Regions from separate parts of the Homo sapiens genome. Here region 2 is linked to region 1. Evidence: fine-mapped expression QTL. A gene starts in region 1. The other region holds a variant in brackets. All regions are shown on one strand. Distances are from middle to middle.

Region 1 (2,906 bases):
TGGGCTCAAGTAATCCTCCTGCCTTGGCCACCCAAAGTGCTGGGATTACAGGCATGAGCCACCATGCCCCACCAGGATTCACTTTTTCTGCATACTCTGGTGGTGTTTATTGTTATCTTTACATTTTATTTAGCAAAGAATGTTAAAAGCGCCATGTTATAAGCACACTCCTACCCTCCAAGCAGAATGTAAAGGGTATGTATTTATATATTTTAAGTGGTCCCACAGCAATTTGTACAGTTATAGCAGTTCACAACTATACTCAGTTATGTTTGCTTCTCTCCTTCTCAATAGTCTGTGAGGTTCCTTCAGGTTTGGAACTGTCTTTTATTAATCTTTACATCTCCAGCACCTAGCGCAGGGCTTAGCAACAATTTTTGTTGAAAGTATATACACTGTAATAAAGGGCAGTGGAAAGAAAATATGTGAGTTATCAACACCAGCTAGAGAAGCCTTGTCTGATTCCTGTGAAATATATTCATTTCCCTTAGGAAAAAAAACAATTCTAACCCTATTGCTGTGTAACTTAGCTTCTTGACTTCGAACGGTATTTTAAGGCTTTGAGGAGCTGGAGCAATGTATACTCACTAGAGGCAAAGTGCCTGGTAAGTGGTCTGGTATTGATCAGCAATGATCAGTAAGTACTGGGAAGTGCGTTTTCAGGGCCTGAGACTTGCAAGCTAGTGACAGACCGCTCCAGCTTCCAGTGGACCCGGGCGGGGGCACTGATCAACCCACTTGAGCAGTGGGATCAAGGTCTTCAGCCTTAGCAGTGGGAGCCTCTGCCCGGCCCCCTTCGTTCCCGAGACCCTCAGTCAGCGTCTCCTCCCAAGAGGGTCCCCTCCACCCAGAATGTCCTCCCCTGGGGGAGACCACTCTGTCTGCGGGCCCCCTCCCACAGGAGGGCCCCTCTTCCTCAAGGTGAACCTCTGTCCCCGATACCCGCTCCCAAGACCGAGACCTTGTTACGGCCCCACCCTCCACAGGCCCCTTACCCCCCGGATCCCCTCCCCTGGGGGAGACCCCTCTGTCCGCGGGCACCCTCCTATAGGACGCGCCCCTCTTTCTCAGGGTGAACCTCTGGTTCCCGATACCCGCTCCCAAGACCGAGACCCTGTTACGGCCACATCAACACAGGTCCCCCTCCCCCCGGCGTCCCCTCCCCTCGGAGGAGCCCCGTCTGCGACGCTTCCCAGTCAATCACCCCCAGCATCCCTCCCCGCTCTCACCCAGAACTTCCGCCGCGCCCCCTCCCCTCAGGCGGGACTTCCGCCGGCGCCCCCTCCCCCGCGGCGCCGTCTCCTCCTCCCGCCTGAGGCGAGTCTGGGCTCAGCCTAGAGCTCTCCGGCGGCGGCGCAGCTTCAGGGCAGCGCGGGCTGCAGCGGCGGCGGCGGTTAGGGCTGTGTAGGGCGAGGCCTCCCCCTTCCTCCTCGCCATCCTACTCCTCCCTCCTCGTCATCCTCCCCCTTCGTCCTCCTCGCCTTCCTCCTCCTCGTCAGGCTCGACCCAGCTGTGAGCGGCAAGATGGCGGCGCCCAGGCCGCCGCCTGCCAGGCTGTCGGGCGTCATGGTGCCGGCGCCCATCCAAGACCTGGAGGCCCTGCGCGCGCTCACGGCGCTCTTCAAAGAGCAGCGGAACCGGTAACGGGTCCGGCCGGGGGGCTGCCCCGGGCAGGGGAGGGCGGCCGGGACTCCCGCGGCGGCCCCGGCCTGGACCCAGGCGCCGCCCCCGCCTCGCTGGAGACGCGGAGGGCGAGGCCTGCGCGGGCTGCCTGAGCGCCACCCAGGCCTCCCGACTCCCAGGCACCGCCTCGTGCTCGTGGGTCCCCGCGGGGCCTGGGGCGGGCGCCCCGCTCCCCCACCGCAGCCAGTCCGGGTGCGAAGCCGCGATCCCGGGAGCCCTTGCCGCGGCGTGCCGGTGATGTTGACCCAACACACGGTTAGGCCTCCCCTGTCATGTGCGAGGGCTGCGCCAGGCCCTGGCTGCAAGACCCACGCGGCCCCCAGAGTCATAAAGCGTGTGTTTTAGCGGGAGAGACCCGTGTTACGGACGCGGGAATTGGGCAGTTGCGGGGATGGCAGTCTCTAGGCATGGAGTGGGACTGGCACTCCTTTCTCCTCGGCGTTAGAGCCCAGGCTGCACCATCTGCCCTGGGGGCAGCGCTCTGTGCAGTGTGGAAGAGCACGGGCCTGGAGAGACCAGTCCAGTCCTGATGCCACTGAGGGGCAAGATAGCCAGGCAAAAAGAGAAGGTGCCCAGGAGTCGACAGTTGTGGATTTGGTTCCTGGCCTTGCAAGCTGCGTGTTACTGTGCAGTTTCTCCAGGCCTTAGAATTCTTGTCTAAAAATGGGACTATAATACACAGCTTAGTTGCTGGATTGTACAGAGGAATAAATGAAATAAAGTACGTGAAAATATAAAATGTGCGAAGCCCTCAGTCAATGCTTGTTTGATCTTGTTCTGTCCTCTGGGCCTCAGTTTTCTTGTCTATTTAATGGGAGTAAAGTTGAACAGTACCTCCCTGGTGATAGTGTCATAAGGAGTAAATGAGATATAATGCATATTAAATCCTTAGGACATACCTGTACATAGCACTAAATGTAGCTGATATTATCACTTAACACATTGATTGGTAGTTACCCATGTATCAGCTATTGTGCTAGGTGATGGGGTAGGAAAATGGAAAGTCCTTGCTCTCTCCTGTACTAGTATGTACAAGATAACACAGCTGTGGGGGTATGTATGTACAAAGCAGAGGGAACATTGAAGAAAGAAATACTGAGACTTGGGTCAGCCTAGGTGATCACTAGAGGACTTCCTCTCTTTAAACTAGACACCTGGTCTGAGCACTTCCTTTACCTCACATCACTTTGGGAAATGTGGAGCTGCTGAAGGAATGCTATTAA
Region 2 (2,906 bases), 90 kb after region 1:
ATTTGTGCTAATTCCACAACGTGGAACATCCTCCTTCGTTTGCTTAGACTTCCCTGGGAGCAGTAGCCCATGTACTGGTGGCCTAGCTCAACTGTGGCTTGGTTCTGGGCCTGTAAAGCCATCTTTCCCACCTACAGATGACATTCCCTATCTTCATCATGTGCTTTTAGTCAGGTTTCCTGCGGGCCAGATGCATCTGAGAGTGTGCCCTCATTAATATGGGACTCTGTGTATGTCCAGCACATGTGGGGTTTATTCACGTACCAGTGATTATTATTCAACATCGTTCCCTTTAGTGCAGCAAGCACTTTCTGAGTGCTTACCATGTGCCACTTTCTGTGAACCTCTGCAGTTCAACAGTGGAGTCAGAGGCAGTCCTTGTTCTCAAGTAGCTCATGATCTACTGTGGGAGACAGATGGCTAGATGATAGGGTGTAGTCATATCCCATTATTTCTGATACCCCAAATCTTGATCAGAAGCCTTGATCAGAAGCTAGGAAGGCTTCTGATCAAGATTTGTGGTGTCAAGAATAACAACGATTACAGCAATAGTAGTTGCTTATTGAGTGTGTCCTGTGTCCTAGGCACAGTTCTGAGTATTCGTCTCTTACCTCATTTAATGATGATACCTCTCCCATGTTGCAGATGAGGAGACTGAGGGCCAGAATGGTTCAGTAGTGTACCCAAGGCCACACAGCTGTTAAGTGGCATGAGAAAGAAAGAAACTTTCATTTTAAGCCTCTTAGATTTTTGTGGATTGTTTGTTACTGCAGCACGAACCAGCCCATCCTCACTGATAAGAGCCCCAGTGTGCGGAGTGGATTCCTGAGCCAGTTAAAAGGTTGCTACAGCAGTGGAGGCCTGGTTGGAGGGTGGTGATAAGCCTGGAAATAAAAGGACATATGTGAGAGACAGTAATTTGATAAAGAGTAATGAAAGAGGAAGCTTTCTTTCAGGTAGCTTATTCTGTTTCATTATTGTTGTTTTCCTTTTGGGAAAGAAGTTGAATTTTCATTGTTGGCTTATGTTTTCAAGGGTGACCTCAGTATTTTATTTTATTTTATTTTTTTGAGACGGAGTCTTGCTCTGTCGCCAGGTTGGAATGCAGTGGCGTGATTTCGGCTCACTGCAACCTCCACCTCCCAGGTTCAGGCGATTCCCCAGCCTCAGCCTCCCAAGTAGCTGGGACTTTAATGTTTTTATATTGGTGATTTTGAGCAGAGACTGTATTACCATCTAAAACACTACAAGCCTAGCATGTAAGCTCCATGTCTGTTTGCTCCTCATTCTCTCCAGGGCCCCTGGCACAGTTCCGGGCCCACAGTGAGTGC[T/C]CTGTAAACTTTTAGGGATGAACAAATGAATATTTTTAAATCTGTTCATTGTTTTCACAGTTAAACTTTTCTAAGCACTTATGTAATACTGTGTTTACTTAATTTTCATTTCTCACCAACCTTTATGGAAGACTAGGTGATAACTGGTTAAATTGTAATACAGTATCATAGGTATAATCTCGAAAAGGTAAAAATCAAATGTAACGAAGCATTATAATCCAGTGACTGGAACATTTTATGCAAGCCTTTGCTCTTTATTTATCTATTTTTTTATCATACACTTCTTCCCAGTTTTTGCTTAGTCCTTGTTAGCAGTTACATTAAAATCTGTTTTAAGTTCCACCTCAGGGAATATCAAAAGTTGGTTACTTTTCTAAATGGGCCTTTAATTAAAATTTTAAAAAATTAGACCATTGTGTTAGATTTTTTAAAATGTTGGCTAAAACAGAAAAGGTTGATTTCAGTGCAGTTGGGCTGAAACTATACTTAAATAGATTAAAGTATAATCTGGCTTTTAAAAAAAACACATCTGACTGGGATGAAGTAGTTGTGGTCTTAACTGAAGCAGGTGAATGGACCATATTCGCCTTTAAGAGCCTTCTGACTCCCAGGTTTTCTGATTTTTAAAAACTTCCTATTTAGTCATATGTTTTTACTTCACTTTATGGTTTAAGTGAGCCAACCAACAAAAGTTACTCATAAAAGATAGTATTTTACTTGTAACAATTGCAGAAAAAGTGAAAAGCTTGACATTACAGGTAGAAAGGAAGTCAGTCTCTGTCCCCTGTGCGTTTCCGAGACTGTGTTTCTATTTATTTGCCCTTTGTCTGTTTCCCCTGACCAGCGTGCGTTTCTTTCTGGAGGCGCAGGGACCTCGGCTTATTTTTCTCTGTCTTTGCATTGCTTGACAGAGGGCCTGACCCAGGGTAGGCACTCCCGCTTCATGACTACATCTCATTTTTTATTTATCTTTGTTATGATAGATAGCAGATAAAGCAGTTGATTTCAGTCAGAAGCAGACCACAGCAGCAGGATTCTTTCCACGGTGCATGTTCTGGCTGAGTGTTGGTGGGCTCCACCCTAGCCGAACCTGTGTCTGCACACCTGTTGTGTCTTCCTGGGAGGCTCCCAGGCATGCTCCTGTCTGGCCAGGGTGCTTCCTCCTCGCTCTCCAGCTGGCTGAAGGGAAGCTGGGCAAGAGTGTATGTGTTTAGGCCACAGGGAGAGCACAGACTCCCAGAGCATGAACCAAGGGGCTTCCAGGCCTCAGGGACTGCCTCCTGGTCCCCCAGAGGCCACCTCACTCTTACTCCTGTCTCCAGGCTGGTGACCTCACATGGCCCCAGCCATCTCTCCACATCCTCCCCTCCCTGCTGTGGAGCCCCCACTGACAGATGCCTTCCCCCTGTGTTTTGGCTCCAAATTCCAAGTGAGAGTAATTGCGTGGCTTCCCTTGGGTCTGTCTCCATCCCTGTTGTAGTCCCTCACAGCCCAGACTGTGGACTGCAGAGGCATCACCTAGGGGCTTGTCTGAGATGCAGAGTCTCAGGCTCTACCCCAGCATCCGGAATCAGA

Which allele goes with the higher level. Positions count from the first base shown, and alleles are read on the strand shown. Sizes are in standard deviations (SD) of each study's normalised expression.
For the expression in esophagus mucosa of the gene that starts at base 1,295 in region 1, C is the low allele of the variant in region 2 and T is the other (moderate effect, 0.41 SD a copy in GTEx).

The links.
Region 2: its variant is fine-mapped to the expression of ATXN10 in esophagus mucosa (GTEx, PIP above 0.99). The same link has a PIP of 0.9 or more in fibroblasts.

What each region holds. Positions count from the first base shown.
Region 1 is chr22:45,670,540-45,673,445 of GRCh38, forward strand. It overlaps ATXN10 (ataxin 10), which reads left to right and starts at 1,295. Exons shown (of 12, transcript NM_013236.4): 1 at 1,295-1,640. The coding sequence starts at 1,525. RefSeq lists silencers at 968-1,157, 1,218-1,267, 1,598-1,927.
Region 2 is chr22:45,760,070-45,762,975 of GRCh38, forward strand. The region is part of intron 9 of ATXN10 (ataxin 10); the gene reads left to right. MIR4762 (microRNA 4762) reads left to right here and starts at 455; the gene lies at 455-529. RefSeq lists an enhancer at 2,582-2,906 and a silencer at 2,740-2,906. The variant T/C (reference allele first, on the strand shown) is at 1,332.